7 linked regions of the Homo sapiens genome follow. The protein of the gene in region 2 purifies or fractionates together with the protein of the main gene of each other region. This does not show direct contact. Each region holds a gene or a part of one and is shown on either strand. Other genes may lie near its edges.

Region 1 (2,663 bases), on a different chromosome or scaffold from region 2:
TCTCAGCTCTTCCACCGTCCTGCCCCACGAAGGATCCAAGGCCAGTTAACCAGGCAAGACACAAGCCTTGGCTGGAAAACTGTGGTAGAGCCGGGCTGTGGCTCAGGTAATTTTTGCCATTTGGCCAGAGGGAATCAGAGACTACAAGCTGGACAGTCACCCAGGCCCAACCTTCCCCAATGCACGAGTCCTCTCTCTCTCCTTGTCCCTGTCCACCAAGTAGTTGGACCATTCTGGCCCCCAAACAAGGGAAGATAAAGTCCCCAGCACACAGCAGGAGTCAAAAATTCTTCTCGGCTCCTTGGTGGGTTGTTTCTGGATCCTAGGGCAGCCTCTGTCTGTGTGGTTAATGTTCTGGTTTCTCAGTCTCCTCACTATATCCACTTCACTCCTCATTTGCCCAATGGGCTCAAGTACCCCATAAGATTTACCAGCCATCAGCTCTATCTAGGGGGCTTTCATTTCTTTCCCCTTGGAGTTCTTTTCTTCAGACTTAAAGCAGAAAGGGGTCTGTGCTGCCTCTAAAGGATTATGAGACTACCCTTTAGGTTGAAGTTTGACCTGGCTCCTGGCTTACCAGTCTCCTGGAAGCAGAGCATGCAGATACTCATGCGGATACCCATTGGAATGACATCATCCCTCCCCAACCCCAGCTCTCTCTGCTCACCTTCCAAAGGCACCTGGAGGTGCAAGCCTCATGCATCTCCTTTCCTGAGCACCAGTAATGCTGCTGGCATCGCCTGCTTTCTCTCCAGTGGCTGGAGACTTCAAGCTGACTTCATTGTTTCCACCTTGGGAAAATCCCTAGGCTAAGCTGGGCCTGACCCAGCATCCTCTGCCTTCTAGGAAGTGCCCAGCAAGAGGGAAAGCAGACCCCTTTAGTCACTCCACAAGCAATAGCTCCATGAGAGGCATGGACTGTGAGACTACTCCCTCCTGTTCCTCCTTCTCCATCCCCCATGGAGGAGGCATCGCACTTTACCAAGCTGATGCATTCCTACAGAAGTGGGCCCCGGATTTCTGCAAGTCGACTATCATGATGACTTCGCTGGAGGAAAGGTGATACGTACATACGCATTGAGGGCCTCAGCTTTATATAGTTCAAAATGCAGCAAACTTTTCAGAAAGCCACGTAAATAAATTGGTTAGGTTCCTTATACCAGTCACATGGGGAAGTTGAAAAGAATTGTATATTCTTGGCAGTGCTTTTTCTTTAGCATTCTGTCAATTCAAAGAAGGGATCCTCTTTCAAAGGCTACCTTTATGAAGTAGACACTATTGCCCTCAGAATGAGAGAACATTAAACTACCAGTCTGGTAAGCTGGATTTTTTTCCCCATGGCTTTACTTCCTTGCTGTGTGACCTTGGGTGAGTCATTGTCTTCTTGGAGCCTCAGTTTCCCTGTCTGTAAAATGAGTTCTTTGAAATGGATGATCTCTAAGGGCACCAAATCTGGTATTCTAAGGTTCTCCTGTTTTCACCATCTATAATAGTATGGGATGATTTTTGCTTGTGGAAGGTATCATCCGTGTGGGTTCTTCCCTCCTGCCCTCAATTGTTTTTCTGGGCCTTGTTTTTTAGTTTCTGTATGTTTTAATCTCATGGGGATGAGCTCAGAGAAGCTCCGTGGGCCTGTTTCCCAATCTGCAAAGTGTGAAGGGATTAGATGGGATGGTCTCTGAGGCTCTTTGTGGCATCAGCCTTGCCCAGTGCCACACAGTATCTCCTGGCGTTCTAGGAGTCTAGGTATTATGGAAAGTACCCAAGTCTGTGTATCTCCTGTTCCTGTGCATCTCCTATGAATTTCCTGGCAAGAGGAAGACTCAAGACTTCCTCCAGAGGAATTTGTCTTCTCTGCCTTCACTCAGCATGGGAACCAGTGTTCATCCTGACCTTGTCTGTATCAGATTTGGCAGTGAGGAGGCTTGGGGAGCACCTACCTTACTTTCAGGGACAGGAATCTATTGCTCATACTTCTGCTTCCCAGAGTTTTGCCAATCTAAAGGCATTGTCATGTGGCCTGCCTTTCCTGTCCACATCCCCACCTCTGATGCTCAAGATGCTATTTCCAAGATCTCTTACTGCTGCTTCTCCTGGCTTACTGGCCAGAAACTAGCTCACTCAAGGCTGCCATCCTTCACTTGCAGCCTCCCTGCCATTCTCCTTCACTGGTTGGCAACCTTGAGAGTTCAAAGAAAATCAACCTCTGTGGTGGTCAACTAAAGGTATTAGGAAACTAAGTCTGTGGCTCTTCTCTGCTGATGGAAACAGAAGGGCGCCAAGCCATGCCTAAAAAGATCTCGCCAATAATTCTTGTCTTTGAGTGTTGGAGCCCTGGATTCTGGTGCTATAGCTCCTGGTGCCAAAGTCTGGATCTTTCCACATTTCAGCAGCACCAACATCTGCTGCTACTCAAAATGTCCTGTTGAAGAGGGACAGCTGTGATGCCCTTTTGCTGGGGCTGCCATCTTGAAATCTGAGTGCAATAGGATTTGCTTGTAACAGTTATTTCAGGATATTTTGTTTCTTTAATCTGCACACTTTCTAGATAGATTTTATTTTTAAGTGTCCTCAGCATTGCAGAAAATAACATTGTAATAGCAAGTAAAGGCTGGAGGCTGTTTCTCTGGGCTTCAAATGGCTGGCAAGGCTGGCTCTCAAAT
Region 2 (3,500 bases):
ACTGAGTCCTTCCCAAGAGATTCTCTTGCCAATTCTTCAGACTAAGATGTTGTGAGAAGGCATGCGAAAGGTACCATGTGGCAGGGGCTTGAGGGCAGCTTCTAGGAGCTGAAAGCAGTCACCAGTTGACGACCAGCAAGAAATGGGGGACCTCAGTCCTATAATCACAAGAACCACATTCTACCAGTGAACTTGGAAGGAGACACGGATGAAATCACAGCTCTGGGCCGGGTACAGTGGCTCACGCCTGTAATCCCAGCACTTTGGGAGGCCGAGGCGGGCAGATCACAAGGTCAAGAGATAGAGACCAACCTGGCCAACATGATGAAACCCCATCTCTACTAAAAATACAAAAATTAGCTGGGCGTGGTGGCGCACACCTGTAGTCCCAGCTACTTGGGAGGCTGAGGCAGGAGAATCACTTGAATCCGGGAGGTGGAGGTTGCAGTGAGCCAAGATCGTGCCACTGCACTCCAGCCTGGCGACAGAGCAAGACTGTCTCAAAAAAAAAAAGAAAAGAAAGAAATCACAGCTCCTGCAAGGTAAGACCCTGGGGGCCCAGCAGCTAACCCCATACCAGGACTCCTGATTCATGGAAATTGTAAGGAAATATTTGTGTTTTAAACAAATAAATTTGTAGTAATTTGTTACAGAAAACACAATGTGTATGTATATAACTTGAATAAAAATTATTGTACCACAGTGAAAAAGTTTCTTCTCCAGAATTTTGGCTACACTGATTTGATTACAAAAGATATAAAAATTAACACATTTTTATTTAAGCAGTATAGCAGGTTTTAAAGCCTCAATCTGGTAACAGCTAGCTTCATGCCAGAAACTGAACTGGGCTCTCCCATCTTTATACACTGAACATCAGGTTTAACAGACTTGCTTAAAGTCACATACCTCAGAAATATCAAAACCATAATCTGAACTCAAGTCTATCGAATTCTAAGGTTCATACTCAACCCACAAAACCACCTTCTACTTTAAAGTAACATTCTTTTTTATAATCTAGTTTGATTAGTAAGTATCAACTATTCCACCAGGCCTATTTAAAACCATTTTTAGTACTTAAAAATAAACTTGTTTCCTGAAAACTGATATAATTTTTCTCTAGGCTGGCAACTTTTCAGCATTACAGATTTGCTAACTCTGGCTTTCTCCCAGAATGCAACCTGTATTTAAAAAGTCCTGCCAAGGAAACATCCTGAGACCACATTAAGTCTGCAACTCCCAAAACTTATCATGTTTAATGTCTATTTCCATATAATCATATGACTAATTCATTAAGCATAACTAAGAAAACCCTATTTCACAAAACTAAAGTTTACAGAAAACAGTTTAACCTTTTAAGCATCAACACTACTATTTTAGGACATCCTTTGTTTAATCTGGCCATTCTGTGTTTTGGTAACATAACCAACAATTTAACTTTTCTTGGAGACTTGCAGGTATTATTAGTAATTATCGCACTAAAATTAGCACTTAGGACAAGACACTGTCCCAAAACATTTAAAATTGCTTCTGACAACAGCATCCTTCTTCGTTCATTTCCTTTTTTTTTTTTCTCCAGTAAAAGTGAGAGAGAGGATACAGGTACATGACTTCTAAGCCAGTATGACATAACGTACTTCTACAAAATAAGGTGTTCACGAAGGCCCACAAAGCATTCTTCAGCATACCAACTGGTCGGTCAAAAGCACTAAAATCACAGCCTAATATAAAAGACGAAAACAAAACATTAGATGAGGAGTCAGGTGCTTAGTGTCACCTCTAGCTACAAGTCTGGTTATCTGTAAAATAAAGTCAAATCCAAAACTCCAAATATTCTCACCACTTCCATGATAGCAACTGTTAATCTCTTGGAAGTAATTAGGTAGATTAATAATTTAAAAAACATGTTTGAATCTCTAATATTTAAACTGACAAATTATCAGGTTATATACCAAAATACGAGAAAAGCCATATGCATGAATATGGTCACCACAGCACAATAATAGCGACAATTTAAAAGGTAACTAGAAGCAACCTAAATGTTTAACAAATACTTGCTAAGTAAAATTACGGTACACTTGCTTGAACTATGCAGCCATTAAAAAGTAGCAACCAGAAACACTACTACTTGGGGGAGGAGAAAATTATTTAAATGCTATGATCATAAGGTAGGGTTATATATGAACAGGACTTCATAAATTCAAGAAAAAAGTTATCTTGGAATATTAGGAAGAAAAACAGAGAACTCCCTATAAAGATTAAATAGAGCAGCCAAATCAATGAGGTGACTTGAGCATACACTCAGGAGAACATGTATAAGCTCCATGTCCTGTTCAGCACAATGTCACTAACACCTAGAAGAGTACATGGCACATAGCAGGCATTCAACTATTTATTAAAAGAATAATCTTCCAAACTGTAAGCAAATGATGTAACAGCCTGCCTTTCTGATTTGTGTAACAAGTTTCTTAGAAATCTGGTTGGCAATGAGACAAGCTAAAAGCTTTGATCAAGGAAGAGATCTGATGCACTCACCTGCAGGTTACCATTAAATGAAGTCAGTGGTTGCCCAGTAAGTCCACCCCATCCTACTGAGGCAGAATAAATCATTGAGCTACTGATGCATGCTGTGCTCCTTGCTAGGATTTTTTTTTTTCCCTGTTCTGAGAATAAACTAGACCTAAATGTCACCTTTCCTTTGAGAAGAGTTCTATCACTGGGCCTAAAACAAATCTGTTTCCTTGGCTTTTGTTTTCTGGGAGCAGAGTTCTCTGAAAGGATTTTGACAGTGTGGAGCAGGGGTACTCAAAGTCCCGGATGGCATTCTTCAAAGCTGGTCCAGGAGAGAACACTGCAAACAGGAATGGGACTGTGCACGCTTAGAGTTATGCAAAAGGCAGGCCTGGATGGGCACAGGGATCTTTGGGGGATGACAGAAATGTTCAAAATGTAACCAAAAAAATCTAATTGAATGGAGTGAATTTTATGGTATATAAAACATAACTTAATAAAGCTTCTTTAAAAAAAAAAATCGAGAGCCTGGTTCTGGAAAACTGAGGTCCAAACACTGGGTAGAACTGACCCTCTGAGATGTTACTACCCTTTGAGATCCAAGACAAAATTTCTAAGTCATTCATCTCTAAGCTTCAACAGTTCTCATACACAAATGACACATGAAAAAGACTGAAAGGAATAAAAAAAAAATCATTCTCTCACTACACAACGGTCACAATTTGCTTTATATATGTGTGTGTGTGTGTATATACGTATATACGTATATACACATGTATATATACGTATATATATGTGTGTGTGTATATATATATATATATGTTTTGTTTTTTTTTTTTTGAGACAGAGCTTTGCTCTTGTTGCCCAGGGTGGAGTGCAGTGGCGCAATCCTGACTCGCACAATCCTGACTCACTGCAGTCTTCACCTCCTGGGTTCAAGCAATTCTCCTGCTTCAGCCTCCAGAGTAGCGGATTACAGGTGCTGGTCACCA
Region 3 (4,099 bases), on a different chromosome or scaffold from region 2:
CCACCTTCTCCTGATCTGCCTCTTTCCTGATTTTCAGGCTGTTCCTTGATCTCAATCCCCTTTGCCAACTCCTCCTCCATTACCTGATTTTTAAATGTTGGAGTTGCTCAAGGCTCAGTCTAGGCCATGGGTGTCCAACCCTTTGGATGCAAGAACTTTTTTGCTTACCTGTGGTGGCGGACATCACAAAAATTATGCATGGGCCTTTTTTTTGTTTTTGTTTTTGTTTTAGCTCATCAGCTATCATTAGTTTTAGTGTATTTTATGTGTGGCCCAAGACAATTTTTCTTCTTCCAGTGTGGCCCAAGGAAGCCAAAAGGTTGGACACCCATGGTCTAGGCCATTTTCTCTATTCATTTGGCAATTTGCTCAAGACATTCTCATCCCCTCCAATGGCTTCAAATATTCTGATCATCTTTAAACCCAGACCAGATCTCTCTTCTGAGCTTCAGAAGTGCTTAGAACAGGGCCTAGCACACAGTAAGTACTTAATAAATGTTTGCTAATATTATTCTGTTCACTTGACTGTTTAGCAAGCATTTCAAATTCAAAATGTTCAAACTGAACTTAAAATTTTCTCCTCCCAAGCCGGATTTTCCTCTTTTCTCTGCAAACATCACCTGCATCTACCTGGTGCCAAAAACCTGAGTCATCTTTGGTATTCTCTTCACACTCAATCACTATGCTTTAACAATGTTATCTCCAAATTAGTTCTCAAATCCATCCACCCTGCCCTGCCACCACCCTAGTTCAAGATGCCATTCATTATCTTTGGCATAAATTGCTGCAAAAACTTCTTGAACTCTCCACATTCACTCTTCCCTCCTTCAAATCTATTTTCCATGTGACCAGAATGGGCTTTTGGAGATAGAAATCTATCTTTCATGTGCTTTAGTTCTGCAGTGTGTCTTATTTGGCTTCTGTGGTCCTGGAAGATGTGGCCCTTCCACATATCTCCAGTCTTCATGCCACATTCCCCTTACTAAACTCCAGCCACACTGACTGAAAGATCCAGCTTCCTCTTTCTTCAGGTCCTTTGCAGAAGATGCTGTTCCCTGTTTTGTGTGCTCCCCACCTCTACAATCATTCAGGTCTCAACTTAAAAGTCACATTTTCAGGCAGGGCTTTCCTGAGCATCCTGGTTAGGTCAGGTACCCTGGTCATACGCCCCATTGCACTTTGCATGCCTCCTTTTTAAGATGGACCATATACCTGTAACTGAATAATCCCTTGTTTAATATCTCTTCCCCTTGCCCTGACTGTAAGCATTTGGACTCCCTTCCTACAGTTGGGAAATTCCCTACCTTACGAGTTTGGGAATAGGGAGTATCAGAGCCTGACTCCCATTTTTGAGGCTTCAAAGGCCAGAAGCTGGTTCTCTCAGTTTTGCTTAAAATCACGGCATGGGTACGTGGCCAAAACTTAGCCAATCGGGACATTCTGGGGCTTTCAATTAGAAGCTAGTGCCCAAGACAGCAGGGACTCCAGAGAGGCTGACACATTTGGGTTTCAGGAACTGCAGGGATGTACAGAGGCAGGCAGTGTCCAGGGCAGGGGGTGGTGGACAATACAGCATCCACGTTTACCAAGTTCAGCAGTGGCGTGGAAGAGGCTCCGTGGGCTGGTTCTGTTGTGTGATGCCCACTGTATTACAGTTGCTGTGCCTCCCTTTATGCTTGTCCGTTTTGTCAGCTTTGTACTCCTGCCTTCCTGGTCATTCTGTGAGCTCTCCAATAGCCTTTCAACACATTCTTTTTTTTTTTTTTTTTTTTTTTTTTGCTTAAATCAGCCAGTTTCTGTTGCTTGCAACTAAGAACTCACGATGTTAGCAGAGATCATGTTTGTCTCATTCGACGCTGTCAAAAAGGTTTTGAACATAATCTATTGCACCTCTGTCCTACAGACTGAGAGTTCCTCGAAACAGCCACTTTACTCAATCATGTTTATACCCTTAGTGTTAAGTGCCGGAAGAATATGTACTAAATGAATGAATGGACTGGGCTGAAGAGCAATGATTTACCAACACTGGTTATAGTTCATGCAGCCCCTTGACCTAACTGAACACAGCATTATTACAAATAAGACATGGTCCCAGCTTTCAGGACCTCTTAGATGAGGAGCGAAAGGCAGGTAAACGGATTTTCACAATGCCAGGTGAGAAGTGCTGTAACAAAGGTTATGTACAGAACAGAAGGCAACCAATTCCCAGACACGGGTCAGAGAAGACTCTCCAGAAGTACCAACTGTATGCAATCTGTTAAGTTAGTGGACGAGAGGCCAAATCGGTGCAGACCGAGCAGCCGGTGCAAAGGCCAGGAGGGGGAAAGCTCCAGGCAGCCCGAGAGGGCACCGTGGCCCGGGCAGGGCCGGGCAGTGGGCGCAGCGGAGGAGGTGGACCCGCCCAGGAGGCGGAAGCCGCGTCCTAGTACCCTCATCAAGAAGAACTGCATTCCTGGCCCGATCGGCCACGTGTGCCCCCGAGGAAGCGCCTTCTGGGCATCCCGGCCCCGGCGTGGGTAGCGCGGGAGGGGGCACTCACCTGCAGGCGGGCCACACAGAAGAACGCCGCCGAGGGGTTTCGGAGGTGGATCCTCTCTGTCAGCAGGTTGCTGCCGTAGGCAAAGTACAGAAAACTCTCCTCATCTGGACCCGTGACGTCCTTGCAGCCCGAGTTGGCCATATCCCACTACGCCCCTGCACTGGAGCCTGAAGCAGAGTGTAAGGAACGGCCAGAGAGCGCAACACTGGGGCCCACTACCCCGGCGCAGTGACCGCCGCGCGGCAGCCTCAGGGTTAGGGGACTGGCGGGAAGCGTGGGCCGGTCGAGTCAGGAGCGAGCGCTCTCCTGATTGGCTGCCGGTCCCCACCGACCTGAGTCGCCCCCTTTGATTGGCCATCCCCACGGCCTTCCCTCCGCCTTCCGCCGAGACTCAGAAATAGTCTGTCCTGAAGCAATCCGGCGCTGGCTCCTCATTGGACACGACCTACTGATGTCCCGCCCCTCCTTGCTCAAGGCTTCCTCTGATTGAGGGGTGGACAGGCACTCCTCACAGGCGGGTCGGGTCCCATGGACACTGGCTGAAGGTCGTGGCGCGTGACTGGTTTCTTCGCTCTGGGGTGCTTGTGTGTGGTTCTTTGGTACTTTCTGTGCCTTAGGAAGTTCTGGTCAGATCTGAGGCGAAACAGCGGCCCAGGCGACTCCATCAACGGCTCCCTCATCCGGCAGCTCGCCGGGTCCTGCCTTCCTGGCCTAGAGGAGTCGGGCAGGACGGGTCCGTTCACCCTTTCTGCTGGTTCCGGCACCCCCAGCACTGGTCATCAATCTGACCCCTTTCCACGGACCCGTCGCCTGCTGGAGCGGCCCCTCTGAATGCTTGGGACTCCCTTCCCTGTTACATGGAAGTTACATGCCTGGGCTTAAATCCCGACGCTGCCATTTACTAGCCAAGTAACTTTGGGCACCTCTGGTCTCCGTTTCCTCTTTTTAAAAATCGGGATCATAATATAAGTTAGGGTCACAGTAGAAACCCCTATATTGTGTTTTGGTTACCCCCTCCCACACACACACACATCCTGGGTGTATTTTTTAAAACCTATATTGTTAACTTTTGAATGAACATAAGGGCATAGGAACATTGTCTATCCTTGACACCCAGCTATTAATCTCTAAATACCACCCCCCACTAAAAGGTACCAAGTGATCCTTCGAGAAATGACTGATGCCAGGTCAGGAGCTAGGAGTGAATGAGGACAACTTGGAACATCTTGTGTCAGAAGCTCAGGACGCCTCTCAAGACGAACGAGGTCCTTCTAAAAGGACATGGGAACCAGCCTGAAGTTGCCCACTGGCCAAAATTAGAACAATTTGAGAATCAAAAATAACAATGACTGCAAACTGAAAAATGATTGGAAACTTTAAACATAAAAAAGCCATTCCCCCCAAAGAGTAATCCAAATTAAAAAAAAAACTATAACTTCATTTGCCACACTATTGGTGGTGACTATTACACCAACTTTACTCTGCAAAGTGATAATTTAAGAAAACAAACAGGTATTCCGCCTTTCTAGTAGCAGCTGTATTTCGGGGTAACTGAAATAC
Region 4 (3,500 bases), on a different chromosome or scaffold from region 2:
TGGCAGAGTAAGGAGAGAAAACACCTTGAGAAAATCTATACTGACACATGTCAAGTTCCAGAACACTCAAGAACCACTTTACTCAAAAGATTCACTAATGAAGAAGTAACTACAGATGTACTTTTTAAATTCTTCTCCTATGTATCTTACTTGCACCCATTTCATTAAAGAGTTTTTTAAGCTTAAAACACCTGGGATGTAATTCCTCTCTCCTTCAGTTCTTTGATCCAAACATAAGGCCTAATCACTGCTTTTATTCACATTAACCCTGTCATCTTCCTCTATTTCCCTCTCCTTCTTTCTTCAGCAGACTCTGAAGAAAACTGACAAGTAGATGTTAATTCCAAGGAAAAGCAAGCCAGGGAAGGGGAGAACCCACAGGAAAGAAAGGCCAAGTCAGAGAACAGAGCTGCTGCTTTGACTTGGCCTTTCCATCCCTGTGTATCCAGCTGGTATCTGGGAGCCATGATAAAAGAATTACCTGTTTTGTTTGTCTCTGGAATTAACATCCGCTCCTCTATCTATCAGCAGTTGACATATTGTTGGCCTACTCATCTGAGTAGCCAGAACAAGTGGTGTCCGCCCGTCCTAAGCAACAGGAAAAATAAAACAGCATTAAGACAACAGATCTCCCAAAATGTAGAAGTTAGAATGCATGAGTTGAAATGAGAATAAACATAAACTAACTTACTACATCTTTGGCATTCACAGAGGCCCCATGGTCACAAAGCAGCTGTATGCTAGAAGGACAATCTGCCATTGCTTTAAGGAACAAAAGAAAATGATAAATGGTGAACATCTGTTGGTAAGACACATAGTGTTTTTCTAGGTCCATATAAGGAATAAGTTTTTCAATTTCTAAATTACCAAGCTTCACGTCCTTCACTCTTAGTTTAGCATTATAAGCACAATTTTTCATCTGAAAATGGATTAGACAAGATTATAAATTGTCTACAATTTATTAGGACCAAGGAATAACGTCAACCTTGTAGAAGACAAGAACACACTACTATTCTAAGGATAAGCACAGACAATAAAAATCAAAGCTAAATTTTGTACTTACAGTATATTTTTAAACATGGCTATAACTGACTTGATCCTTGAAGTGTTGGCTCAGTTTTTTTAAAGAATCATATCCATTTTTTATAGAATAGTCACAGTAAGTAAAGTATGAATCATACAATTCATATTTCTCATAAAAGCAGAGATTGCAATGTCTACCTTTATGCAAAGTAAGGTCATTTTGCTAATAATTATAAAATCACATTATGCTTCTTTGACTAACACTATAGTTCATATTTATATTAGGAAAAATTATTGTTAAATTCATAAAGTAGGATTATGTTTACAATCCCCATGAATTTTTTAAGCCTTATGAGTTGACATACATTATAAGCACAAAAAGTACTGACAAAGTGAGCATTCTTTTTTTTATTGGTGAAATAATAGAATTAAACCAAACATAAGAAAATCAAGTAAATTTTCACTTTTCGTCTCTAATCCAGCAAATCTTTTATATAAAATGTATCATCAGCTTTAAGAAAAAGATAAACTGAACCTGAAAACATTAATTCAGGAACTGTAAAATTAGCGACCCTTTACGTCCAATTATAAATGAGAATTTAAAAATGTAAAGCATAATAAATTCCAGAGTTTACAGATTACTAGATCATGAAGAACCGCTTAAAGCCAAAAAGAGAAAACTGCAAACCACCCAGAAATCCTAGACTTTGAGCTAGATGAAGTAAATGAGTTTGTTTATATATCCTCTCCTTTGGGAGTATGTGGGAAGTAGGGGCTTTGGAGATATTTGGAAGGCCAGAGAGTTGAACTGTAGCAGAAAATGCAGTATTTTACCAAAATTTGTTCTCCTCTTCTTCTACTATAGAGTAGGTTTCGGAATATGACTAGTCACCTAGAGAGTTTATTTCTGAGCCTCCCTTGCAGATAAATATAGCCAATTGATTTTGCTCCTATCAGTAGAATATGAATGGAGAATAATCTACTACTTCCAAGTCTGAGTTCCAGACTTTGGGCATGTATTCCACTAGGCTCTCTCCTCCTTCCTGCTAGCTAGAATACGGCTACGACCACAACTCTGCTTCAACCTTGCAGTTAAGGAAGATACTCACAGGTAAGTGGAGAAACAAGATAGAAAGAATTCAGTTTTAAAATGACCATGAGTGACCTGTCAATATATATCACTCAACAATTTTTTTAATAAGCAGCTGATATTGGAGTTCTTTTGTTATAGCAACTTAGTTTCCATCCTAGCTAATGCATCTAACTAATAAGTATAAAGATTTCAATTGGTCAAGTTGTACCAGTTTTTAAAGCAGGGATAATAAAATATATGGTTAACTTACAGGGGTCATTGTGAGGCTCAAATGATAATGGAAAAATGCTTTGCAAATACAGTAATACCCTTCTATATTAAAAAAAAGAAATGCATTGTGTGAGAAATTATCATACAAATAAAATACAAAAAGCAAAATTTTTAAAAATTAAGGTATAAAATTTTGAAGGAAATTTGAAGTATAATATGTCTTCAGTGCAGACCACCTTAATCTACTGCATATATTCCATATACATGAAAAGAGAAAGTAGACTGTTTTTTTTCCTTTGGCCTTATAGTTAAATGTAGGAATATCAGACTTAGCAAGAGGTCAGGCTATCTTACATTCCAAAAATACCTAAATATATAACTTTTTTCAAAGTACTTTCTTTAAGACACCTAAAGAATAATGCAAATAAATTTAGACACACAAGTATAATAAAATCTCTAAAAATCAGTATAAATCTCTTTTAAAATATAGCACATTACAGTGATATGAAATTCAGCACTGACATCTCTAAAGGAAAACAACTACCACCATTAATTAAGAAATTATTATGTGCCAGGCACTACTTATGATTTGATTATACTTATTAATACTACTTATTGCAGTAGTATTATTAACTTCATTTTGCAAATGAGAAAAAAGAGGTTCAGACATGTTAATTAGGTAAACATAGTTTAAGGAAAGTCTTCTTCCCATTTCTCCAATTCCCAAAGACATGAAACACACACACGCACACACATTCTCTCTCTGTTTCCCTCTCTCTCTCTCTCTCACACACACACACACACAGCTTGGAGCTCCTTGTGAGCAGGATTATAGTTTATCTACCTTTGTACCTTTAGTATCTAGCAAGCTGACTGGCCTGTAAATACTGACTGAATGAATCTTTTTAAGCGGTATAATCTAATAAATCTCTAATTTGTGCAAACAGGTTTTTAATATTCTTTGTTTCTCCATGAATTATATAAATATCTATGTGTTAAAACCCTGAAATTAATTCAAATGACTAGACATTTTAACAAATATTTGTATCCAAGGGAAACCACTGCTCACCGGCATCGTGAAGTGCAGTTCTTCCCTGCAGGTCTGCATGCTCAGTGGGACAATTGTACTGTTAAAGTAAAGAAAACTTAGTAAAGTAGGAGAGTTTTATTTTAA
Region 5 (4,193 bases), on a different chromosome or scaffold from region 2:
TTTCTATTCAATGAGAAAAGAGTGCAAAAAGACCTGTCCTCAAAAGCCCCAGTCCCAGCCTTCCTGAGCCTCCTTCTGGCTCCTGCCATGACCAGACCCACCCTCAGCCTCTGCGGCCCTCGCATGGCTCACAATGACCATTTTCCCTCTCTGCTTCTTTGCTTCCCAAGTTGGCTCTGTGTCCTCTCCTAGGAGTCAGGGACCTAAAATTCAAGTCCCAGCTCTCCCAGTGACCTTTGCAGTGTGAGCTCAACCAAGTCCCTAAACTTCTCTGGTCTCTAATTCCTCACCTGAACAAAAGAGAGTTGCTCTAGAATAATCTGTGAAGGTCATACCAGTTCTGAAGCACCCCTGTCAGAAGACACTTTCTGCCCTACTCTCTCTCGGGGCCTTGGTCAGACACCCAAAGGAGACAGTGCAGGTCAGGGCTGGGCTGAGACATTTCACTGGGACTGAGTCAGGGGAAAAGACCAGAATGATTTGGAAACAGCCCCCAGGGACAAAGAGGAGAGAGGAAAGGCAGGAAATGTGTTGGTCAAGACTGGCCCCTCAGGGAGTTATTGGACTGAGCAGCTGCATGCTGATTCCTGAAGCAGGGGGACTTGCACAGGGTCAGCTCATGAGGGTCACATTGGCCCGGGGCAGGGGTCTTCGCATGTGGCACAGGGGGCATTACTTATTCTTGAAGTCCTCCACCACATCCTGCATGCTCCGCAGCTCCGCCTCCAGGCGGCCCCCATCCACCTGCAGTGCCTCAAGCTGACCCCGAAGGCCAGCAATCTGGGCCTCAAAGATGTCTGGGAGGCGGCTGCTCTTGGCCGACTTCTGCTCCTGCAGCAGCGTCCACTTGGTCTCCAGCAGCTTGTTCTGCTGCTCCAGAAACCGCACCTAGAACGGGCGAGAAGGAGGAAACTCAAGAGGAGCCAGAGCGTGCCACCCACAGCGGGATTGAGGAACATCATCTTTAGCCACTTAGCAGAGCCATGCTCCCCCTGGCTGTTTCCCTGCCTGGGGCTTCCAGCCCTCTCCCTTTGGACTCCAAATCAAGTGTCCTACAGAGTGATCCAGGAAGCAGGTCTGCCTGGTGCACGGAAGTGCCCCGTGGTTGACTCTCGACGAATGTGCTCCAGGGCCTCCTCTCCACTTCACTCCCCATCACATTACAGGTGGTGTTCTCCACCTCCCTATCTGAACAGCCACCTCTTCCTGTCAATGGATCATGAGGATGACCAGGCCCAGCCCTCCCTTCTGTCTGGGACCTCTTCTCTTCCTTCCTCAATATCCTTTCTCTCCTTCCCCTTTCTCCAGCAAGGCCTCAGGACAGTCAATCCATGGTAAAATGACCCCAGCCTGGAGCCCACAAAGGCCCTTAAGGAGTAGCCGGTATGACTGGAGGTGGGAGGCAATAGAGGCCTCTGCAAAACCAGCAGCTCAGGGCCCCAGGCCCTGGGGACCACAGAGAGTAAGACGGTGCAGCTCAACACATGGGGGAACCTGGGCCTGGAGCAGCTTGGGGAGGCCCCTATGAAATCTAAAAGACCGGTCTGGGTGAATGGCGAAGGAAAGGAGAACGTGAGGGAGGCGGGTGTGGGAGTACACTTCGTCTAAGCTGAGGAAGGGGGCCCTGGCCAGAACAGCCCAGCAGGGCCAGCCCTGAGTTCCTGGCTTTGGCAGCACTCCTCCCAAACCCACCAGTCAAGTCTGCCCTCGCCCCCTCCAGCGGCCCCATGTGTGGCGGAGGCCAACAGCCAGGAAAAATATCTCCAAAATGGACCCCTTTTTGAGGGCCCTCTCTGCCACTCCCTGCCCCCAACTGGGCTGTCTTCAAGGGCAGGTATAACCTCTCCTCCTGCCACCTAAGGGAGGCTGGAGGACCAGGCAGGTGGGGGAGGGGAGGGGCGGGAGCCCCCCCCCCTCCCCCGCCCCACCGACTGCCGCTCTAATCTCCAGCATCTGCATCCGCATCAGCATCTGAGAGAGCCTGGGTCTCCCCCTCTGGGAAGGGCGTGCCATCCAACTCCATTCCTGACTCCACACGGTCCTCTCTCAGGGAAAGGGTCCCAGAGAGAGAACTCCTGGCCTAGGCCTCTGGAACTCCTAGTCCGAGGCAAAACTGGTCCAGGTGACCAACAGGCAGCCAGCGAGGGCAGCCCTACAGGACTCAGGCCCGCACTCCGGGAGGAAAGGGAGGGGCAGCTGGGCAGCTTGCTGGAAGGGAGGGCTTGGAAACCGAGGGGATAAAATAGCCACGGGGTTCATGCGAAGGAGGAAGGACCCCCAGATCGTGTCCCCAACACTGGCGGAAAGACAGAAGGGCGGCAGTGCTCCCCAGCGCCTGGCCCGCGCGCAGGCAGGGCTAGTTAGGGCGGCTGGTGTGGTCTGGAGCGCGGCTCGAGGAGAGGCGAGGTCCAGTCCCGCTCACCTTGTCGATGAAGGAGGCAAACTTGTTGTTGAGGGTCTTGATCTGCTCGCTCTCCTCCTGGCGCACCCGCTGGAGGGAGGGGTCGGCGTCCAGCCGCAGCGGGGCCAGCAGGCTCTGGTTAATGGTGACCTCGCGGATGCCGGCGCCCACCGGGCCCCCATAGGCAGAGCGCACGGCCACGCGCGGCCGTGAGGCGCCGAGGCCGTAGAGGCTGCTGCTGCCAAGGCCGCCGGGGCGAGCGGAGCTCAGGCGCACCTGGGCGCCGCGGCCCGAGAAGGCGGCTGAGCGCGAGGTGAATACCGGGGAGCTGAAGTGGATGGACATGGTGGCTGGGCCGGGATGGACCTAGCGGCGGGCGAGGAGGAGCGCGCACTCGCTGACCTCGGGGACACTCCGCGCCTTTTATCCGCGGGAGCGGGCGGCTGGGCTTCCACAGGTAGGGGCGGGGCTGCCGCGGGCCACCTTTCTCTGCTGCCAGGCCCCTCCTGGGGCCGCCCTCCGCCCTCTGCCCGCCCGCCCCGCCGAAGCCCAGGCTTTCAGTCCAAGCAGGGATGGTCCGGAGTAGGCAGGAGCGCCATCCCTAGACGGCCGCAGAGAACAGCGGGGGACCGCAGTTCCAGCCCATTGGAAACGGACTCAGTGAGGGAAGGCTTCCCGGAGGAGGATGCTTGGAGAGGGAGTGAAGAACCTAGAGATCCCTGAGGCCCAAGCAGAGAGACCCAGTGGCAAGAGACTGGGGGAAGGGGTGGGCTGAAAAGTTCCAACCCAGGAGTCAACGCCCAGACGTCCCCATCCTCCAGGCTGCTGAAGCCAGAAAGGCATTCCTTACCGCTCTCCCTCACACCGATCCAGCTCCTCCTTGAGAGATCAGCTCACTTGTTCAGGGGTCTGACCCCTCCTGGCCCAGCTAGTTTCCCTGGCTGCGTTCCTTCCTACTTCATTTCCCATAGAAACTAGGCTGAGAGAGACACACGACCGACCGCACCTCTGGCTCCTCCCCTCCCCACTCCAGTAGGCATCGGAATCCCAGGGACCTTGGGAATGCTTACCCTGGACCCTCACCTCCCGGACCCTCCACTCATATTCCTGCCCATTTATTTTATGCGTCCCTGTACAGGAAGGGGACACTTGTGTGTATTTGTGACACTTTGTGGATGTGTGGACACTTTGTGGATGTGTGCACACGCCTGCAGGCCTCTGGGCTCTGCTGTGCTCACACCCCCAGGCATATGCACCCGCATGTCTGAGCCTGCTTACACAGATGGGGGTCTGTGCGTGCATCCTGGGCGAGGGGGCAGCTGTGGCTACACAATGGCACACATTTTCATGCCTGCCTGAGTGCGTGTGCTTCTGTTAGCACTCAACTCTCCTCCCGCTCCCTCCACCATTTTCCTGTTTAAAGGCCCTCAGCTTTCATCATCTTTCTCCCGTGAAGCCACCACCAAACAATTCCCAGCAGTTTCAAACCCAGTCAAGAGGGGTAATCCTAGTGCTGGAACCGAATACCGGACAAAGCCTGAGTGTTGGCCTCACTTCCCGGTAGGGCCAGCCATGCTTGCCACACCCTGTTCTCAGGCCTGGCTTCCGTCTGCCCTTAGCCCACCTCTAGCCCCTCCCAATAAGCTGGCCAGGTTCGTTACCTCAGACCTAAGCCCTTGGGGGAGACAAGGGTGGGGACGGAATGTCCTTCCTGCTTGGCCATTTCAGTTAAAGCACAAGGACTTCCAGTGAGGCTAAAGACTGTCACTCCTTCTCAGTGATCTTAGTGAAG
Region 6 (3,500 bases), on a different chromosome or scaffold from region 2:
GTTTCAAGGCTACATTAAGCTGTGACTGCACCACTGCCCTCCAGCCTGGATGACGGAGCAAGATCCTATCTCTAAATAATGAATAAATAAAAATAAAAATAACATGAGAAATTACCATAGGGTAAAATAATTAAGCAAGGGCCAAGCTTAGAAAAAACTGCCCTGGTTCTACAGCTGCTGGCAAAAGTGGTGTTGGGTGCCATGGAGGTCAGGGAGGGTCTTCAAGAAAGGGCTTTGTGGAGGCCATCTGTGCAGCAGAGCCCACCCATGCAGCAGAGCCCACCCATGCAGCAGAGCCCACCCGTGCAGCAGAGCCCACCCGTGCAGCAGAGCCCACGTGTGCAGAGAGCTCACACATGAGAGCCCCCTGGGGCAGAGTCCATGAGTGCCTCTTCCCAGTTCCGCTGCCAAGGGGGCCCCTCTCCATCTGCCTGCCACGGACATCACCCTGTTCCCACCACTGGTGAATGGCTCCAGGATTCTCCGTTAGCCCCACCAATGTGTCTTTTAGGTTTTATTACTGTTTTCTGAGGAAGAATTTGGCAGGTTGTCATTCAAGTTGCTTAAGAAGTACGTGGAGTTAGCTGGCATATAATGGGTATGCTTTCAAGTTGGAAGCTAAGTCATATGTTTCTGTTTCAGGACGTTTTTACTGTAAGTGTTGGAAACTTACCCCCTAAGGCTAAGGTTCTTATAAAAATTACCTACATCACAGAACTCAGCATCCTGGGCACTGTTGGTGTCTTTTTCATGCCCGCCACCGTAGCACCCTGGCAACAGGACAAGGCTTTGAATGAAAACCTTCAGGTTTGTACGCATAAGATTTGAAGAAGCATTTTGGCAGCAGTGGAGGGGGAGTGGTGGAGGGCTGTGGAGGAATTTATGCCTGGGGAGAAAAACATGTAAAATAATCTTTTAGGCATAAAGTTAATTTTACTGACATGCATTTAGATACATTATGTGTATAAAATGAAAAGAATAAAAGTTACAGATATGATCAATAAGCATATTTTTATTCTGCTTAATCACTCAAAAAATGTTATATCTGTAGTGCAAGTTCATCATGAAGAACTAGATAAGCATAGAGAATACAAATAAGCCAAAATAAGAAAATTAAAACCATCCTTTATCCCATTGCCCAGAGTTAATGGTTAATACTTCGGTATATCCCTCCAAACTTCCTACTTTGTATGTACAGCACATGTATAAAATGTGTGTGTGTGTGTGTGTGCGTGTGTGTGTGTGTATACACACAGACATATGTAGAGTTTAAAATCTCTGTCAAAATGGTGAGTTGTATTTTAGAAGTTCCTGTCATTCCATGAGCAAACTTTCTGTGTTTCACTGCTTGAAAGTGAAACCAGCTGTCTTGCTGACAGTTGTGGCCTTGCCAAGATTACATTCACTTTAGTCTCATTGTGAAACTTAATATATGCTTAGTTATACAAATGTATTTTTCTTTTAACAGGATACAGTAGAGAAGATTTGTATAAAAGAAATAGGAACAAAGCAAAGGTTAGTACCTAAAATATAAAACCTGTCAATTCAATGGATATTGGTTTTCTGGTTTAAATTTCCATTTAGAATTGTTTGAAATAATTTCAGATAGAAATTTAAGATCGTAGACTAAGACAACTTTCTCTTCATTTTTGCTAGCTTCTCTTTGACTATGTCTATTGAGATGCCGTATGTGATTGAATTCATTTTCAGTGATACACATGAACTGAAACAAAAGGTTAGTGCATCTTTGATTTCTTAAGAGCTGTTATTTTAACACTACTTTTATCTTATCAAAGCAATGTATGCACGTGGTTGAAAAGTGAAATAATGCTGACAAAACTTCTAACAAGAAGCACTACTCCTGCCCCTGATTCTCCCCAGACCAGTTTCCAGAGACAGTGAATCATTTGGACTATTTGAGCTGTTTCTTTGATTTTGCCTCCAATTTTTAAATATTAATTTTTAATGCTTTTTCTTGATTTCGCCTGTTTCAGAAATTATCTTTTGACTTCCTGTTTTGGAAGTTGGACGTGTAGCTCTTGCCCCCTCCACCCACCTAACTCACTACTTTTCCTCTCCCCTTCATTCCAAAAGACCTGTTTCACAATAGTCAGTGATTATCATGTAAATGATGTTTACCACTGAGCCAAGAAATGTATAATATTATGATGAGTTTTTTTTGTTTGTTTTGTTTTATTTTTTGAGACAGGGTCTTGCTCTGTCACCCAGACTAGAGTACAGTGGTGCAGTCATGGCTCACTTCATCCTTGACCTCCTTGGATCAAACAACCCTCCTGCTTCAGGCTCCTGAGTAGCTAGGGCTACAGGCCTGTGCCAGCACACCTGGCTAATTAAAAAAAAAAAAAACTTGGCTGAGTGCGGTGGCTCATGCCTGTAATCCCAGCACTTTGGGAGGCTGAGGTGGGTGGATCACGAGGTCAGGAGATCGAGACCATCCTGGCTAACATGGTGAAACCTCGTCTCCACTAAAAATACAAAAAATTAGCCGGGTGTGGTGGTGGGCACCTGTGGTCCCAGCTACTCGGGAGGCTGAGGCAGGAGAATGGCGTGAACCCAGGAGGCGGAGCTTGCAGTGAGCTGAGATTGCGCCACTGCACTCCAGCCTGGGCGTCAGAGCGAGACTCCATCTCAAAAAAAAAAAAAAAAAATTGTAGAGACAGGGTCTCACCATGTTGCCCAGGCTTTTCTCAAACTCTTGGGTTCAAGGGATCCTTTTTGCTCTGGCTTCCCGAAGTGCTAGAATGACAGGTGTGAGCTACCACACCCAGCCTATTTTCCTTTTTAGAATTCTGCAGGAACTTCAGACCTTCTCTTTATCTCTGGTATTCTGAAATTTCATAACAGTATGATTTTCATTCATTGTATGTAACTGGTGGTCTTTAGTTCTGAGAAATTTTATTGTATTAAAAAAAAGTTCCTCTCTTGTGCCTTTCTGCAGTGCCTTTCTTTTTTTCTTTTTTCTTTTTTTTTTTTTTTTTTTTTTTTTTGAGACAGAGTCTTACTCTGTTTCCCAGGTTGGAGTGCAGTGGTGGGATCATGGCCCACTGCAAACTCCACCTCCTGGGTTCAAACGATTCTCATGCCTCAGCCTCCTGAGTAGCTGGAACTACAGGTGCCTGCCACCACGCCCAGCTAAATTTTCTATTTTTAGTAGAGACGGGGTTTCCCATGTTGGCCAGGCTGGTCTCAAACTCCTGACCTCAGGTGATCTGCCTGCCTTGGCCTCCCAAAGTGTTGGGATTACAGGCGTGAGCCACTACATAGTGGTGGAGGAGTCCTCAGTAGCAACAAGAGAGTGCCAGGCCCGTTGCATGGACACTTTTCACGCCCCTGCTTGTATCTCATCTGCCAACATATCATTGGCCACAGCAAGTCCTTTGGCCAACTCCAGTTTCAAGGGTGGAAATATAGCTGCTGCCTCGTGGCAGGAGGAACTTCAAAAGTCACATTGCAAAGGGGCACGCAGACAGGAGTGGAGA
Region 7 (3,500 bases), on a different chromosome or scaffold from region 2:
CATGTTGTCCTATTTTTTCTCAGATTATTAGTGATATTAAACATTTATGTAACAAATGACCCATTGGGTTTCCTCCAGTGAGGAAGGATGAAGCTGAGAAAAGGAGGGTTCTATTTCCTCTTAAGCCACAAAAGGTTCAATGAAGTCACAATTGGCCCTTGCGAAGAAGCCTTGAAACCTTGGTGTTTCTTAAGCCATTTGTAAAGCACAAATCCTTAAAACTTCTCCTAGGCTTAGAGAAAGAGGAATGGTGTCCTGGATTGGACCCCAGGGAGTATGCCGATTTATTCAATCTGTGTTGGTTCTTGTCTTTCGGTGCATTGCTCTAGCTCTCTTTCTCTCTGGATGCCGAGAGTGCTTTGGGTAGTGAGGGACTGCTGTTGAGACTAAACACTCCTTCACCTTCCCTCTTCCTGTTAAGACTGGTTCTCAACATACCAGCATTTGAGTTATAGAAACACACTAGCTTTGTGAATGCTAGTTAAGAAAAGCAAAGTGACATCAACATATTTGCCCAATCCTTTTAGTTTGGAAGAAATACACCTTGCAGGTGAACTCGTTCTTCTAGTTAGCATCTGCTGATTGAGTTGTTTATGTTGTTCCTGTTCCCCAGAGTTCCTGACAGAATGTTCCCAAATACTTGTTGAATGAATGAATGTTTTGTGTCCAATAAAAAGGTTGGCCTATTTAATTGATGTTTCCAGATCTCCTTAAGCCTGTTAACTATCAAAAATGTGTTAGAGCCTGAGGAAATGAGGAATTATGCATACCTGTACTTAACTCTTTAGTTTCAGAAGGTATTAAATAATTATTGGTTGTATATCTTTGAAAACATGTTTGATGTAGTCAAAGCTCTTAATAGGGATAATAGCTGTCATATATGCACAACTTTGAAACAGAGGTTTAACACATTCAATCTGTGGCTTTGCTTAAAGAGATGGACAATAGCAAGTTCTACTCTGGTGAATTACAGCACAGTCCCATGAACAGCCTTTCCAAAGATTATGAAATACCCCAGTAGTATGCTCAAAGACTGGTTCTCATTACTGGGTACAGAATGCTCAGTTTGGTGCTTGAGTGCATTTTTATGTTGGTATACAGCACCTGACCCTCTGTCTGTCTTCAAGCATAATGGGGATTGTCATGTAGGAGAGATTAGGAAATTTTTGTATGGATTCAGAGGGCAGAACTGGTAATAACTGGTCACAGTGAGACTTTTGACTCAGTATTCTGAAGATCTTTCTATGAATATAGCAGTGCCCTACACTACATGAGCTGACTTGAATAGCGAGTTACCTGCTAGTGAAGTGTTTTTTTTTTAAGAGAAGCTGAAAAAATGACAATAAAAGCAGCTAGTATTCTTGAATTTCTACCACATGCATGACATGTGGCAAGTGCATTATACCCACATATCTTATAATGGACTATTCTTACTGAGGATGTTCTTTTCCAATGAGGGAAAAGAGGGGTGAGAGGTAAAATAATTTACTCAAGGAAACACTAGAAGTAGTAAATGCTGGCTGAGGATCCGAATGCCCACAGCCTGCCATCTTAGTCATTATACTCTGCTGCCTGGGAGTGGCGCTGGCCAGGTAGTTCATCATTGTTAAGGAATTAAGAATCAGAAAAGAATGGGCTCTCCGTCCTTGTTCCACCTAAAGCTGTAAGATTAGCTATTTTTTGTACATGACAAATCCTATACAACTTCCGCTCACCAGCACAAGTTATTTCTTGTGATGTTAGTGCCGTATTAGTACATGATCATCAAATATATGTAAGTTACAGAATTGCCAACAGATATATTTTTTTCTTTTTTAGAGACAGGGTCTTGCTCTGTTGCCCAGGCTGGAGTGCAGTGGTATGATCATAGCTCACTGCAGCCTTGAACTCCCGTGCTCAAGCTGTCTTCCTGCCTCAGCCTCTGGAACAGCTGGGAGACTATAGGCACACACCACCACACCCAGATAATTTAAAAATTTTGTTGTAGGGACAAGGTCTCGCTTTGTTTCCTAAGCTGGCCTTGAACTCCTGGCTTCAAGCGATCCTCCCACCTTGGCCTCCCAACCTGTTGGGATTACAGGTGTGAGCCACCATGCCCAGCCAGATGGACACTGTTGAGCAATTGCCGACTTTAGGTTTATATATTTGAATGTATGTTAGTGATTGTTAATGTTCAATAAACCATTTAAAGTGTTAAAAAAGGAAACATTTTAATATAACATTGAGTTATACTTTGAGCTAGAATAGGAAATAGATATCTAAGTAGTTTCTTCTATAATTTATAAAAGTATCATCTTCTCTCATGTGACCTACATTTCTGTAGTTCGTGCATACCAGAAATTGTACAGATGGTTATTGTATAGTGCTTCAAAAATACATGTCATGTTTTTGATTAGGATACTTTTTAGTTAGTGTTTTAGGCTTGTTAGTACCAAAGCTGGGACCCTGATAAAATTTTTTTGCCTCCTTGACTAGATTGAAATTTGATCTAGATGTGTGAACAGGGAAAGAAATATCTGAGTTATTTTGTTATACCACCATTTCATAACATTCAAAGGAAGGGAGGTCATTGCCAGTCTCATTATAAACTTTCATTCTGGCTTGACCCAGAAGTTTGAGGCTGCGGTGAGCTATGATTGTACCACTGCACTCTAGCCTGTATGACAGAGCGAGACCCTATCTCAAAAATAAATAAATAAATAAAATTAAATAAATAAAGGAAGTTCATTGTGGAATTAGTTTTTCTCATGAGATTTAATGTTTTAATGTTTTTCATTTTACATGAAGAAGGGGACAATAAGCAAACGTATTGCCTCTGGACCAGTATCAAATGCATTTGGAATTTACCCTGTGTTATGAAGAAAATATTGTCAGTCTATCAAAAGCATCAGATAGAGTTGGTGATGACTTCCTTCTCAAACCCTTCATTGCCCTCTAGGTTTTTCTTCCATTTCACTTGGTGTTTCTAATTTTTCTGTGCTCAGTCCTCCTAATTATTGTTCATCAGTGAATGTTAGAACATCCAAGGACTCATCTTCCATGTCTTCTTTTCTTTGCCTACAGTATCTTTCTAGCAGATGTTATCAAGTTCATATATCTTCTCCACGCTGATTGCTTCCATATTTACATTCCTGACCCTGACCTTGTCCCTAAATTTTAGTAACTACTTGAGATTTCCCACTGTAGGTCTGATAAGCATGTCACGCTCAGTGGGTTCTAAGCAAAACTCTTAGTACTACCCCTTTCCCACCCCTTCCTAATCATCTCCTCATCTCTCCAATGTTTCTATCTTAGCAAATGGCATCATTGTTCAGCCAGTTGCTCAGGCTTCCAAATTTGAAGTCATTATTGACTCTTGTTCTTTTTTAACATCATACCACACATCCAATCTGTGAAGAAATCCAACAGGCTATATCTTCAAATGGATCCAGAATCTGACCACCTCTTGCCACATCCACCATCACCTTTCACCTATGCTGTTGCAGTAGCCTGGACTCCTT

Evidence for each region.
Region 1: the proteins of RNF38 (region 2) and LUZP1 purify together in Homo sapiens (affinity purification with mass spectrometry, with the first as the bait; one study listed by BioGRID). This does not show direct contact.
Region 3: the proteins of RNF38 (region 2) and GGCT purify together in Homo sapiens (affinity purification with mass spectrometry, with the first as the bait; one study listed by BioGRID). This does not show direct contact.
Region 4: the proteins of RNF38 (region 2) and UACA purify together in Homo sapiens (affinity purification with mass spectrometry, with the first as the bait; one study listed by BioGRID). This does not show direct contact.
Region 5: the proteins of RNF38 (region 2) and KRT7 purify together in Homo sapiens (affinity purification with mass spectrometry, with the first as the bait; one study listed by BioGRID). This does not show direct contact.
Region 6: the proteins of RNF38 (region 2) and PARP4 purify together in Homo sapiens (affinity purification with mass spectrometry, with the first as the bait; one study listed by BioGRID). This does not show direct contact.
Region 7: the proteins of RNF38 (region 2) and LMO7 purify together in Homo sapiens (affinity purification with mass spectrometry, with the first as the bait; one study listed by BioGRID). This does not show direct contact.

The regions. Positions count from the first base shown.
Region 1 is NC_000001.11:23,086,194-23,088,856, reverse strand, and holds part of LUZP1 (leucine zipper protein 1), read left to right. Parts: 3' UTR 1-2,663.
Region 2 is NC_000009.12:36,393,770-36,397,269, forward strand, and holds part of RNF38 (E3 ubiquitin-protein ligase RNF38), read right to left. Parts: intron 1,719-3,500; exon of another isoform or gene 1,635-1,718; intron 1-1,634. UniProt on the Homo sapiens protein: Acts as an E3 ubiquitin-protein ligase able to ubiquitinate p53/TP53 which promotes its relocalization to discrete foci associated with PML nuclear bodies. Exhibits preference for UBE2D2 as a E2 enzyme.
Region 3 is NC_000007.14:30,502,030-30,506,128, forward strand, and holds the start of GGCT (gamma-glutamylcyclotransferase), read right to left. Parts: upstream 2,801-4,099; 5' UTR 2,681-2,800; coding exon 2,540-2,680; intron 1-2,539. UniProt on the Homo sapiens protein: Catalyzes the formation of 5-oxoproline from gamma-glutamyl dipeptides and may play a significant role in glutathione homeostasis. Induces release of cytochrome c from mitochondria with resultant induction of apoptosis.
Region 4 is NC_000015.10:70,687,059-70,690,558, forward strand, and holds part of UACA (uveal autoantigen with coiled-coil domains and ankyrin repeats), read right to left. Parts: intron 3,454-3,500; coding exon 3,396-3,453; intron 763-3,395; coding exon 692-762; intron 589-691; coding exon 482-588; intron 1-481. UniProt on the Homo sapiens protein: Regulates APAF1 expression and plays an important role in the regulation of stress-induced apoptosis. Promotes apoptosis by regulating three pathways, apoptosome up-regulation, LGALS3/galectin-3 down-regulation and NF-kappa-B inactivation.
Region 5 is NC_000012.12:52,231,850-52,236,042, reverse strand, and holds the start of KRT7 (keratin, type II cytoskeletal 7), read right to left. Parts: upstream 2,801-4,193; 5' UTR 2,747-2,800; coding exon 2,423-2,746; intron 889-2,422; coding exon 677-888; intron 1-676.
Region 6 is NC_000013.11:24,457,279-24,460,778, reverse strand, and holds part of PARP4 (protein mono-ADP-ribosyltransferase PARP4), read left to right. Parts: intron 1-642; coding exon 643-807; intron 808-1,468; coding exon 1,469-1,515; intron 1,516-1,656; coding exon 1,657-1,735; intron 1,736-3,500. UniProt on the Homo sapiens protein: Mono-ADP-ribosyltransferase that mediates mono-ADP-ribosylation of target proteins.
Region 7 is NC_000013.11:75,642,830-75,646,329, forward strand, and holds part of LMO7 (LIM domain only protein 7), read left to right. Parts: intron 1-3,500.